Homo sapiens: one gene and its partner. The protein of the gene in region 1 interacts with the protein of each later gene in a pairwise test. Each region holds a gene or a part of one and is shown in the gene's direction. Other genes may lie near its edges.

Region 1 (7,019 bases):
ACTTACACCTAGTCCCTCCTTAGATACCTGCCAGCTCTAGAGTTACAGCCAACTCTTTCTTCTCCTTCTTCTTGGTGTGGCCCAGGCATGTGGAGGAGGTGCTAAGCTCATTGCATCTGTCTGGATTCCCCCCATGGCTCTAGTTTGCAGGCCTTCCCTGGAAATCAACTTTGTCCCACCATTCTTTGGGTCACATCCTAAGAGGCCTTGGGCACTCTCTCCACCTCCTAGGCTTTCTGAGCTCTGGGCAGGGGGACACATGAGCTTCTTCCTGTGTTTCAGATGCAGATGGCAGAGCTATTGGTGTCCCATGGAGCTAGTCTCAGTGCAAGGACATCCATGGATGAGATGCCAATAGGTAAGTCCAGCACAATAGCTGGTGTGCACAAATAGGCAGTTATCAATGTTTTGATGGGTAGAGGGAGAAATAGATAAATATATGGTTGTATAGATTGATGGATTGGTGTCTAGATAGATAGATGGATTAATTAATGGATGGTAGATGAATGGACGGATGGACAGATTAATGGATAGATGGATAAATGGATGAATGGATGGTTGAGGTGGTAGATGGGTAGATATTATGAGGTCTGGTTGAATGGATGGGTGGGTGGGTGGATGGATGGATGGATGGATGGATGGATGGATGGATAGACAGAAAAATAAGTGGATGAGTGGGTAAAGGATGAATCTATGAATACATGGCTCAGTCAGCAATAGGTAGATAGATGGATGAAGGGGTTAGGTAGAATAGATGGGAGTATGTAGCTTTATTAGCATCTTTGCATAATTTATTGCTTGGGCTATGTGGGGTACCTGCTTGGGGACTCTTCTTGGAAACTATCAAAGAGCAACATGAATCCCTCGGTCATAGCTGGGAAGCTTAGGAATTGTGACTGTGCCCAGAACCTGGGTTTCCCATTCTTATAATCCTCTTATAAACACACTCACTCAACTTTGGCTGGCATTGTTTTCTTGCCTCCCTGCATGCCCTGAAAGATGCTTGGAGTTTTCAGTGGGTTGGGGTGGCAGCTCCTCTGGTCTGGAGCACCCTCTTGCGCCACAGGTCCTGGCCCCGTCCCCCACAACAGACTCCTCTGCCCCTTCAGACCTGTGCGAGGAGGAAGAGTTCAAGGTCCTGCTGCTGGAGCTAAAACACAAGCATGATGTGATCATGAAGTCACAGCTGAGGCACAAGTCATCCTTGAGCCGGAGGACCTCCAGCGCAGGCAGCCGTGGGTGAGTCCGGGGCAGGGCAGCCAGGAGTCCCTGTGTGTGCTCCTGCCTGTGGTGCCTGGGTGCAGCCTCTAGGACCCACTTTGTCCTCTCAGGAAGGTGGTGCGGCGAGCCAGCCTGTCGGACAGGACCAACCTGTATAGGAAGGAGTATGAGGGAGAGGCCATCCTGTGGCAGCGGAGTGCAGCTGAGGATCAGCGGACCTCCACCTACAACGGGGACATCAGGGAGACCAGGACAGACCAAGAGAATAAGGACCCTGTGAGTGGCCTCACGCCCTGCCCTAGTGTCAGCCACTGCAATGGGAGGAGAACAGGGCCCAGCCTGGCCTTGCCTCTTCAACTGAGAGCCTTCAGAGGGAAGTAGCCAGGCACTGCCCTTAAACTAGCATATCCAGTCTGATGATGATGGCTACTGTAGTTAAACCAGCAGATTCAGTCTGATGGTGGTGGCTGCTGTAGTTAAGGAGGTGATCGGGGAGTGTGTTAGAGGCTGAGCTGGGTGCTTTGGCACACAGGTAGGTCTCCTAATTGACAGGGGGTGAGTGTCCGCTATGCGCCTAGCTGTGCTCCAGCACACCTAGCAGTGGACTTCCAAGGAGAGAGCTTCAGTAGGGCAGTCACCCAGGAGCTGAGGGTGCTACAACTTCTTTTTCAGGAAATATAACAAGATATTGAGAATTGTGTTTATCAGAACATGTTTTTTGAAAAATGGAGTAGGATCCTAGTAGGACCTCTGAGAAGCCTGCTCCTGTAGCAGCCAATGGTCCTTTAAGCTTTAAGCTGCTTTCATTTCTGATGGCTGCTTTAAGAAATTATCACAAACTGGATGGCTTAACATGGTGGAAATTTATTCTCTCTCAGTTCTGAAGGCCAGAAGTCTAAAATCCAGGTAACACCAGCATTGGTTCCCTCTGGGGGCTCTCAAGGGGATTCTGTTCCACGCCTCTGCGAGCTTCTGGTGGCTCAGGCGTTCTTTGGCTCTTGCTAGCAATGATTCTAGTCTCTGCTTCTATCTCCACATGACCTTTTTCTTCGTGTGTGTGTGTCTGTTTTCTTTTTTTATTTTTATTTTATTGGTTTTTTTTGAGACAGGGTCTTGCTCTGTCACTCAGGCTGGAGTGCAGTGGCATGATTATAGATCACTGAAGACTCCAACTCATGGGCTTAAGCGATCCTCCCACCTCAGCCTCCCAAGTAGCTGGGACTATAGGCGGGGGCCATCACGACTGGCTAATTTTCAAATTTCTTGTAGAGATGAGGTCTTGCTGTGTTGCCCAGGCTGGCCTCAAACTTAGCCTCAAGCAATCCTCCCACCTTGGCTTCCCAAAGTACTGAGATTACAGGTTCGAGCCACTGTACCTAGCCTGTTTTTTCCTCTTATGAGGACACCAGTCATTGGATTGGAGCCCATGCCAATCCAGTATGACCTAATCTTAATTTAATTTATTACACCTGCAAATACCTATTTCTAGATAAAGTCACATTCAGAGATTCCAGGTAGACATGAATTTTTGAGGGACACTACTTAACCCAGAACCAACACACTCACTCAGCATGGCTGCTTTCTTGCTGAGTGGAGTGAACAAGTTTGGGGCTGGAGTGGAATTGCTGAGGATGAGGGAGAAGTTAACTGTACCAGAAGTGGTCTGCCATTTTCGTTCTTCCACTACACCACGAACAGATGAAAACATGCCTAGAGAGTTTAGCCTTGGTGGGATGAAATTGATTAGCTACCGAGCATGCCCACGTGTCTCAGAGGGACCCTGCTTCCCAGCACGAACAGTGGGGTCACCTACTGCCTGTCTCACCAGGAGGTGTGAAGGTGCCTGCCCAAGGGGAGGCCACATCAAAGCCACCAGCTGGTGATGGAGAGGGCACGTAGGGAAGATTTGTTCTGCCTGGCCCCTTAGTCTGAGGATTGGTGAGAAAAGAGATGTAGATCAGTATCAAATCACATTTCAGATGTCTCCCAGCTGTGCTTTATTTATTTTTCCTTTGTGATTGTGGTGTAACTTAAGTATGGTAAAGCAGACAAATCTTTTTTTATTTTTTTATTTTTTTATGATATGGAGCCTCGCTCTGTTACCCAGGCTGGAGTGCAGTGGTGTGATTTCAGCTCACTGCAACCTGTGCTCCCGGGTTCAAGCGATTCTCTTGCCTCAGCCTCCTGAGTAGTTGGGATTACTAGTGCCCGCCACGACGCCTGGTGGATTTTTGTATTTTTAGTAGAGATGGGGTTTCACCATGTTGGCCAGGCTGGTGTTGAAGTTCTGACCTCAAGCAATCCTTACCCACTTGGACCTCCCAAAGTGCTGGGCTTACAGGTGTGAGCCACCATGCCTGGCCAAGTAGACAAATCTTAAATGAGATTTTCAACAACCTTTTACAAATGTACACACTCAGATGAATTCATAGAGCATTTTCATCATCCATGTTCTCTCTCCGTCCTTTCCCCCACTCCAAATGTAGTCACTATTTAACTTTGAGTTCTAAAGATTAATTTTGTATATGCATATGAATGACCCTGCAGTTTCTTTCGTGTCTGGCTTTTTTTACATCTGTGAGAGTCACCCACGTTGTGGCATATAGCAGTAGTTTTTTTTTGTTTTTTTTTTTTGAGACAGGAGTTCACTCTGTTGCCTGGGCTGGAGTGCAGTGGTGTGATCCTAGCTCACTGCAGCCTTGACCTCTTGGGATCAAGCGATCCTCCCACCTCAGCCTCTTGGGTAGCTGGGACTATAGGCATGCACCACCATGCCTGGCTAATTAAAAAAAATTTTTGGCTGGGTGCCGTGGCTCATGCCTGTAATCCCAGCACTTTGGGAGGCCGAGGTGGGTGGATCACAAGGTCAAGAGATCGAGACCATCCTAGCCACATGGTGAAACCCCATCTCTACTAAAAATACAAAAATTAGCTGGGCATGGTGGCACGCGTCTGTAGTCCCAGCTACTCAGGAGGCTGAGGCAGGAAAATCACTTGAACCCGGGAGGTGGAGGTTGCAGTAAGCCAAGATCGAGCCACTGCACTCCAGCCTGGGGACAGAGCGAGACTCCGTCTCAAAACAAAACAAAACAAAACAAAACAAAATTTTTTAGAGATGGAATCTTGCTATGTTGCCCAGGCTGGTCTCAAACTCCTGGGCTCAAATGATCCTCTTGCCTCAGTCTCCCAAAGTGCTGGGATTATAGGCACGAGCCACTGTACCTGGCCTCATTCTTGTTTTTTTTTTCTTTTTCTTTTTTTTTTTTTGAGATGGAGTCTTGCTCTGTCCCCCAGGCTGGAGTGCATTGGCGCGATCTCGGCTCACTGCAACCTCCATCTCCCGGGTTCATGCCGTTCTCCTGCCTCAGCCTCCCTAGTAGCTGGGACTATAGGTGCCCACCATCACGCCCAGCTAATTTTTTGTATTTTCAGTAGAGACGGGGTTTCACCGTGTTAGCCAGGATGGTCTCGATCTCCTGACCTCGTGATCCACCCGCCTCAGTCTCCCAAAGTGCTGGGATTACAGGCGTGAGCCACCACGCCTGGCCGCCTCATTCTTTTTTATTGCTTTCTAGAATTCGATTGTTTGAATATTAAAATTTACATATCCATGCTCCTTTTTTTTTTTTTTTAAATTGAGACAGAGTCTCGCTTTGTCACCCAAGCTAGAGTGCAGTGGCGTGCTCTTGGCTCACTACAACCTCTGCCTCCCAGGATCAAGCGATTCTCCTGCCTCAGCCTCCTGAGTAGCTGGGATTACAGGTGCGTGCCACCACGCCCGGCTAATTTTTCTATTTTTAGTAGAGATGGGGTTTCGCCATATTGGCCAGGCTGGTCTTGAATTCCTGACCTCAAACGATCCACCCTCCTCGGCCTCCCAAAGTGTTGGTATTACAGGGGTCAGCCACTGCTCCTGGCCTCCATTCTCCTTTTGGTGGACATTTGGGTTTCTTGTTTCTGGCTCCTGTGAATAAAGCTCCTATAAACATTTTTGTACATGTCTTTTGGTGGACATAAGCACTATTTTGTGTTGGGAAAACACCCAGGAAAGCAGCTGGAGTCACGGGTAGGCATATGTTTAGCTTTAGTGGATACTACCAAGCAGTTTTCCAAGGTGCCTTGTACCTGTCTGCTTTCCCATGGCAGAGTGTTTCTTGCCAACCCTTGGTATAGTCAGTCTTTTTTTTTTTTTTTTTTTTGATACAGAGTTCCGCTCTTGTTGCCTAGCCTGGAGTGCAATGGCGCCATCTCGGCTCACTGCAATCTCCGCCTCCCGGGTTCAAGTGATTCTCCTGTCTCAGCCTCCTGAGTAGCTGAGATTACAGGCACCTGCCACCATGCCCAGCTAATTTTTGTGTTTTAGTAGAGATGGGGTTTCACCATGTTAAGGTGGGAATTCTCAAAGCATGGTCCCTGTACCAGCAACATCAGCATCACCTGGGAACTTGTTAGAAATGCAGACTTTGGCTGGGCACAGTGGATCACAAATCCTGTAATCCCAAAACTGAGGGAGGCTGAGGTGGGAGGATCTTCTGAGCCTAGGAGTTACTGGACAACATGGCAAGACCGTATCTCTACCCCCCACCAAAAAAAAAAAAAAAAAAAACAATTAGGTGGGTGTGATGGTGTGTACCTGTAGTCTTAGGTCTTGTGAGGCTGAGGCAGGAGGATTGCTTGAGTCGAGGAATTCAATGCTGCAGTGAGCTATGATAGCACCACTGAACTCCAGCCTGGGTGACAGAGTGAGGCGTGGTCTCTAAAAAAAAAATAAAAATAAATAAATGTAGATTCTCAGGACCCACTCCAGATGTGGCGATACTGCTGCACACAAGAATTTCAGAACCACTTATTTGAGGAATAATTTGTTCAGCCTGACCCCCAAATCACATTTCTTCCAAGGCTGTGCCCTGTTAGCCTTCAGGGATGACTTTGGTTCACTGTTTTTTGTTTTTGTTTTTTTCCTCTGAGACAAGGTCTCACTCTGTTGCCCAGGCTAGACTGGAGTGCAGTGGCGCAAACTTCGTTCACTATAGCCTCTGCCTCCCAGATTCAAGCAATTCTCCCACCTCAGCCTCCTGATTAGCTGGGACTACAGGCACCCGCCACCATGCCCAGCTAATTTTTGTGTTTTTTGGTAGAGATGGGGTTTCCCCATGTTGGCCAGGCTGGTCTCGAACTCCTGACCTTAAGTGATCCACCTGCCTTCGCTTCCCAGAGTGCTGGGATTACAGACATGAGCCACTGTGCCCCTTGTTTTTTAATCTGATGTTTAAGTAGCAGTACAGACAAACTAAATCAGAATCTCAGGAGTTGGGACCTCAGCATTGTATATGTTTGTCATTGGTGTTTTTTTTTAATTTTTTTTAGATGGAATCTTGCTCTGTTGCCAGGCTGGAGTGCAGTGGCTCAATCTTGGCTCACTGCAACCTCCGCCTCCCAGGTTCAAGTGATTTTCCTGCCTTAGCCTCCTGAGTAGCTGGAACTACAGGCGCACGCCACCATGCCCAGCTAATTTTTGTATTTTTAGTAGAGACGGGGTTTCACCATGCTGGCCAGGATGGTCTCAATCCCTTGACCTTGTGATCCACCCGCCTCGACCTCCCAAAGTGCTGGGATTACGGGCGTGAGCCACCATGCCTGGCCATGTCGTTGTTTTTTAAAGCTAAAGAGAGACTGTTTTTGAAGTGATTGCAGCAGTAAGTAGAATGCATCGACCACAGAATTGGCAAGATCTTGGAGGTCAAGGAGAAAGGAGTTCGTTTCCTAGGGAGGAAGACAGAGGCTGCAAGGACTGAGGG
Region 2 (6,866 bases), on another chromosome or scaffold:
GGTTGTCTCAGCCCTGACGCCCAGTGTGCCCGAGGGTCCCGCCTGACCTTGGCGTTCCCTGCACCCCAGCTCATGAAGTGTGTGCGGCTGCCCTTGCTGAGCCGCGACTTCCTGCTGGGCCACGTGGATGCCGAGAGCCTGGTGAGGCACCACCCTGACTGCAAGGACCTCCTCATCGAGGCCCTGAAGTTCCACCTGCTGCCTGAGCAGAGGGGCGTCCTAGGCACCAGCCGCACACGTCCCCGGCGCTGCGAGGGGGCCGGGCCTGTGCTTTTTGCTGTGGGTATGGCCCCCCGCCCGTTTCCCTCTTGCCCTGTGCCTTCTACTCCCCACCAGCACAAGCCCACCCCACCTGTGCCGGTCAGGTCCTGACCTGCCCCTCCGCCCCTCCATTCAGGGGCCTCTCCAGGAGCCTGGGGTGTGGCCCAGCAGTGGGATCCACTCACGAGTCCCGTCTCCACCTGCCCTCCCCAGGCGGCGGGAGCCTGTTTGCCATCCACGGAGACTGTGAGGCCTACGACACGCGCACCGACCGCTGGCACGTGGTGGCCTCCATGTCCACGCGCCGGGCCCGGGTGGGAGTGGCTGCGGTGGGGAACCGGCTCTATGCTGTGGGCGGGTAAGCCTGGAGGCTGGACTTGGGTCGGGTCTGGCACGTGCCCGCCAGGCCAGTCTTGACCTGCAGTGGCTTAATTCCGCTAGCTATGATGGGACCTCAGACCTGGCTACCGTGGAGTCCTACGACCCCGTGACTAACACGTGGCAGCCGGAGGTGTCCATGGGCACAAGGCGAAGCTGCCTGGGTGTGGCCGCCTTGCATGGACTCCTGTACTCGGCCGGCGGCTATGACGGGGCCTCCTGCCTGAACAGGTAGTTGGGGTTGGGGCCCCAGTGGCTTTGTACAGTCCATCTGCAAGAGGCAAGTTTGTGTCACCATCACAGGGGTCGTATCTGATGGGGTGTTAAAGGAGGTGATCCGCGAGGCCGTTTCACCCCAGGCCACTGCCACACTGGGCCTGAACTCTTGGCTTTGCTGCCCCAGTGCCCTTTCCTCTCTCGGGTCCTTACCCCCAGTCCAGAGGCTGGGCCCAGGTGGGTGTGCACCCAGGGTTGTTCAGGCAGCCAGGGTCCTGTGCCCACCAGCGGGCCCTGCCTGGTAGGACTTTGCGGTCTGAGTTTGACTCCTAGGGTAAGATTTCAGCCATTCCGCTGGGGAGGGCAGGTCCTGGGGCCGGGACGCCTTTCTGTCTCTGCTGAGCTGTGGCTGCGGTCCTGGTGCCCACAGTGCTGAACGCTACGACCCCCTGACCGGAACGTGGACGTCCGTCGCTGCCATGAGCACCCGGAGGCGCTATGTGCGAGTGGCCACGCTTGGTGGGTGATGGGGCCTGCCTGGGGGGCATCCCCACCTTCCCCCACCGTGGAGACCCCACTCCCAGCAGGAGTGCCACGGGTGTGTTGACTTCCGGCAGATGGGAACCTGTATGCTGTGGGCGGCTACGACAGCTCCTCACACCTGGCCACTGTGGAGAAGTATGAGCCCCAGGTGCATAGTGCACCCCTCCTGGCCACCCCCTCCCGTGCGCCGCGGGGCCCTCCTCCCTCTGTTTACCCACATCCCCCCCATTCCTGACACCCCACCCTGGAGTCGGGGCTGCGGCAGAGGAGGGATGCCAGTGGCGGGTCTGCGTCCAGCCCACGCCCTCGCCCCCAGGTGAACGTGTGGTCGCCCGTGGCGTCCATGCTGAGCCGACGCAGCTCAGCGGGCGTGGCCGTGCTGGAGGGTGCCCTGTACGTGGCAGGGGGCAACGACGGCACCAGCTGCCTCAACTCGGTAGAGAGATACAGTCCAAAGGCTGGAGCCTGGGAAAGCGTGGCGCCCATGAATATCCGCAGGTCCGCAGTGGGGCTGCGGGGAGGGGGGCGCGGGTCCGCAGTGGGGCTGTGGGAGGGGTCCGCGCGTCCGCAGTGGGGATGTGCTGCGGGGAGGGGGGCGCGGGTCCGCAGTGGGGATGTGCTGCCGGGAGGGGGGCGCGGGTCCGCAGTGGGGATGTGCTGCCGGGAGGGGGGCGCGGGTCCGCAGTGGGGATGTGCTGCCGGGAGGGGGGCGCGGGTCCGCAGTGGGGATGTGCTGCCGGGAGGGGGGCGCGGGTCCGCAGTGGGGATGTGCTGCCGGGAGGGGGGCGCGGGTCCGCAGTGGGGATGTGCTGTGAGAAGGGAGTTCTCCCAACCTCAGCGAGCATGTCCCGCCACCACCCCTTTTTGTGGTGCAGCCCCTCCCCCCGCATCCCTTCCTGCAGCCAGGGGCTCACCCCGCCTTCCCCCCAGGAGCACGCATGACCTGGTGGCCATGGACGGATGGTTGTACGCCGTGGGGGGTAACGACGGTAGCTCCAGCCTCAACTCCATCGAGAAGTACAACCCGAGGACCAACAAGTGGGTGGCCGCATCCTGCATGTTCACCCGGCGCAGCAGTGTGGGTGTGGCGGTGCTGGAGCTGCTCAATTTCCCGCCGCCATCCTCCCCGACGCTGTCCGTGTCCTCCACCAGCCTCTGACCCACCTACCACCAGAGGCCTGCAGCCTCCCACATGCCTTAAGGGGACCGTGGCCCCCACCAGGGACGTCCTGCGCCATCCGTTCACGTCTCTGCATCCATTCCTTCATGTCTTTATTTAGTTGTTTATTTATTTAGTTATTTATCTTATTTATTGAGGGGTGAGGAGTGCCACGGCTGCCCGTTTACACCTTTAGCGTCTGGTCCTCCTGCGTGTCCTCCCCTCCACTGCCTGCATGGGGGGCGCGGGGAGTGACCAGGCGGGGGCCTCACCGCCCCAGGGCCGTTGCCTGCTCAGACCTTGCAGGCTGTGGAGCAAGAGGCCCTGGGTCTCTCCAAGCAGCTGCAGACCCCAGCTCGAATTTTGCACATGGCGGGGTCCCGGGAAGGGTGGGGAGCAGTTGTCCTTCCTGTCGTCGTCTGCCGTGTGCCATCTTTCCTGGATCTTGTAGTGGGTGCACACGCGTGCACTGGGACCCCACACAGCAATACGAGTCCAACTTAATAAACACATTTCTGGGGTTCCTCAGGCTGAGCATCTCTCTCTGGCATGTGGGGCAGCTGCGCAACTTTGGGTCCTGTCTGGGGTCCAGGGTGAGGGGTGTGGGGGGGTGCCCTGAGATGCGCAGGCATCTGGGAGCTGCAAGGCAGAGCTGTGCGTCCAGGGAGGGTGGGGGCCGTGCAGTTCCTGTGGACCAGCGTCCCAGTGTGGGTGGCGTTTGCCTGGGCTGGGTACTGAGGCCGAGGTCCCCGCCACATCGTGGGCTCTGGGGTTAGGGCTGGGGAGGACAGCCTTGCCCCCGAGTGCGCTGACTGTCTTGGCCGTCTAGGGGGCATGTGGCCTCCCTGAGTCCCCTTAAGCCTTGGGGACCCTGACTCGGGTCTGTGGCGAGGGGGCCCAGGCAGGAGGGGAGGCTGCGGTGGCTTTGGCCGCCGTCTCCTGTGCTGGAACTCCTGCCTCAGCCCTCCCTGCAGTCACCGGTGACTCGGGCCGGCCAGAGTTTAGATGGAAACAGGATGTGTGGGCACGTTGTCCCGGGGGGCCTGGAAGGTCGCCCCGGGTTCACCAAGCCGGAGCACAAGCAGGTGGGGTACCTCTGCACACTGGAGGCCTCGTCTGGGCCAGAGGGGTGCTTGCCCCAAGGCTGGCCTCTCGAGTGGAGGGCCCAGGGCAGAGACCTGCACGGCTCAGGTAGGGGCCAGGCCTCTTCCAGAAAGGCTCCACCCTCGCCCAGGCCCTGGTGCCGGGCGGGACGTCCCGGAGCCCCGCCTGCCCGCGGGAGGCGGGGGCAGGAGGCTGTGGACAGGGACCCAGACTTGCCGACCTGTACGACTCTGGCCATGGGGAACAGCCACTGTGTCCCTCAGGCCCCCAGGAGGCTCCGGGCCTCCTTCTCCAGAAAGCCCTCGCTGAAGGGAAACAGGTGAGCGGGGCGTGGGTGCGGCCACCTGGGCGCAGGGCTCCCCCACCCGCTCCGGGGCCAAGCCACGAGACCCCTTGCCTTGTCCCCAGAGAGGACAGCGCGCGGATGTCGGCCGGCCTGCCGGGCCCCGAGGCTGCTCGAAGCGGGGACGCCGCCGCCAACAAGCTCTTCCACTACATCCCGGGCACGGTGAGCGCGGCGTGCACGGTGGCTGTGGTCTGGGAGCGTGGCTCTGCCCGCGCGTGTGTGCCGTGTGTCCGTGCAGCTCAGGGTCTTCCCCTCGCCCCCGGGGCGTTCAGACCCCGGTAGGTGAGGAGCCGACGCTGACTGCCCCGCCCTGGGGAGCTCATCCGGCCGAAAGTCTGAGCGGAGAGCGAAACCGCGACGCAGGACTGAGTCAGTCGGGAGAGAGCTGGGCGGGGCGGGCCGCGGGCGGGGCCTCCCGGGACCTCCTCCCGCAGGGGACCAGCGCACGTGTCTCTGTCGCTGCAGTGGGGCTTGGGGTCGTGCCGGCAGGTAGTGTCACTTGAGAGTAAGGGGCCTCAGATGAGCAGCGAGCCAGCCGGTCACCTACACCGGCCTTTCTCCCTGGGTGTCCCGCAGGAAGTTGCCGCTGGGTATGGCCGCCTGGTCCACAGCAATCCCTCTGTGCACGCGCCGGCCTCCTCCCAGCTTGCCAAGGCCATGCAGCAAGGAGGTGTCTCCCAAGCACACACTAGGCCACCTCTCCGTCAAAGGAGCAGAAGACCACCCCCATGCCCACCCCCCCCCCAGCCCCTGTGGGACTAAGGGTCTTCACAGGGTAGATCCCAGCCCCTTTCAGATGTGTCTGGTGCTGGGATGAGGGAACAGGACCAGGAACCTGGGCTTCAGGGCAGACAGGAACCCCCACTGCACCCCCGTCAGGCAGCCTGGATGGGTGGGCTCCGCTATGTGCAGGCCCTAGGAGCATCTGCGGGAGAGGACGCCTGCCCTGCACTCCTGGGTCCAGCAGCTGGCATGGCCGTGCAGACCCCTTTGCCAACATGCCCCCGCCAGGCAGGAAGCTCGTGCCATACCCTCTCCTGACCTCCAGAGTTTCAGGGCTCCCTGCAGACAAGTACTGGTTTCGGAAACCACGCTGCCTCAGAGGAGTGGGCAGGGAGAGGGAGCCGGGCTGGGTTAGGGGTGGGGTCCCTGTGGCTGCATCTCAGACACCACTCCCTCTGTCCAGGCCCAGGACATGCAGTGTGACCCTGGGGGGTCCTATGAGGTGTGGTGGGTGGCCGTAGTGGTCCTCCCTTGCCAGGACATGGTAGCCACAGAGGCAACAACCTGCTGAACCTCGGGAAATGGGGCTGGGGGAGGAGCTCTGGGCCAGTCCTAGAGCCAGTGCTCCGCGGCCCTGTACCTGGGCTCTGCACCCAGTGCTGTGAGCTGGCTCTACTACGGCTCCAAGCTGAGTCCTCCCCGGGGCCCCGAGGCTGAGCTGCGCTGCAGGGCCAGCTGTGTGGCCCTTCCTGGTCTGTGGCCTATTTTTCATGGGTGCCAACCCGGCATCAGTTCCCACGCTGGGTGTGGGTACAGGAGGCCCCACCCAGAGGCAGAAGGCCGGGAAAGCCATGCGTCTGTCTGTTCACATTCCTGGGCCTGCTCAGGGGCAGCTAAGCTTGGCCAGGGCACAGCAGCTCTGCAGGTAGCTCTCGCCAGCTCCTAGAAGGAGGAGGACACCTTCCCACTTGGCCCTGAGCCTGTGGATCACAGAGGTCTCCAGCCCCAGGTTCACACCCGTCCCTTTTCTGACTTCCAACCTGGTGATCAAAGCCTGCATTTGTAGAGGACTGTGTGTGCCAGGATTGACTACATGTGGCGTGGATGTGGAGTCCCCTCCCCTCTCAGCACATGCAGTGATACCCACAGCACATCCCAGGCCCTGTCTTAGGCTCTGGGGACACAGCAGTGAACGGAATAGACAACCCCTGTTCTGCTAGTGCTCCCATTCCCACGGCAGAGACACACGACGGGACAAATCAATAGATCCAGTGAGCGGGGTCAGGTCGGTGCTAAGGAGAAAAACAGAGGGGATGAGTGCAGAGGATCAGGGAAGGCTGGAATTTTAGAAAGGCTTTCAGAAAAGGAATTCTTGGAGCAGGTAATGTCTGAGCAAAGCTGCAAAGCGGGTAAGGAGGGGGGTCAGGACTGAGCGGTCCCCAAAGCAGGAACAGAACATGCAGCAGCCAGAGAGCATGGGTCTGATGTGAGGAGACAGTGAGGCCGGGGCAGCCACAGAGACCCCTCGGGGGAGACCCCTCGGGGCACTGCCAGGACCCCGTTGTCCCCTGAGTGAGGCATACGGAGCGGCCAACACACAGAGGATCGACCCCAGAAATCTCCTCACATATTTCAGGCTGGGGGCTGGAAATGGGCAACGGTGAGGACACTGACACCGAGGAGATTGGCAAACGTTACAAATCAGGGCATCGGTGTGTTTCTGTGTCTGTTTTTTGTAGAACCAGGTGTTAAGCATTTACCATACAATACTGCAGACGTGGGAGGGTTTTGAGTGTTACCCAGACACCCCCAAATTCTTCTAACAAGTCTTCAGAGGTTGAATAACCCAAGCCATGTTACACAGCTTAGGAAAGAATGAAGATGGGTTTAATCCACTGAGTCCAGATCTCACCATCTCTACCACTAGACCAGGCAGCTCTGTGTGGGGAAGTGTGTCTGTGTGTGCGTGTGTGTGCACAAGTGTGTATGTGTGCATGTGTTTGCACGTGTATATGTGTGCACACATCTGTGTGTATATGCACAGGTGTATGTATACGTGTGTGTTGGTGTATTTGTGTGTGTGTGGAAATGTATGCATGTATGCAGTGTGCATGTGTGCATGCATGTGTGTGCATG

The links. Proteins that work in one complex are often made in the same cells at the same time.
Region 2: the proteins of PPP1R16B (region 1) and PLEKHN1 interact in binary tests that used the Homo sapiens proteins (3 or more experiments, as listed by UniProt).

The regions. Positions count from the first base shown.
Region 1 is NC_000020.11:38,906,697-38,913,715, forward strand, and holds part of PPP1R16B (protein phosphatase 1 regulatory inhibitor subunit 16B isoform 1 precursor), read left to right. Parts: intron 1-282; coding exon 283-358; intron 359-1,109; coding exon 1,110-1,239; intron 1,240-1,331; coding exon 1,332-1,497; intron 1,498-7,019. UniProt on the Homo sapiens protein: Regulator of protein phosphatase 1 (PP1) that acts as a positive regulator of pulmonary endothelial cell (EC) barrier function. Involved in the regulation of the PI3K/AKT signaling pathway, angiogenesis and endothelial cell proliferation.
Region 2 is NC_000001.11:962,635-969,500, forward strand, and holds the start of PLEKHN1 (pleckstrin homology domain-containing family N member 1), read left to right. Parts: upstream 1-3,847; 5' UTR 3,848-3,897; coding exon 3,898-3,980; intron 3,981-4,069; coding exon 4,070-4,169; intron 4,170-6,866. Other genes in the region: KLHL17 (kelch-like protein 17), read left to right, coding at 70-283, 475-619, 703-870, 1,286-1,374, 1,473-1,546, 1,715-1,896, 2,329-2,557. UniProt on the Homo sapiens protein: Controls the stability of the leptin mRNA harboring an AU-rich element (ARE) in its 3' UTR, in cooperation with the RNA stabilizer ELAVL1.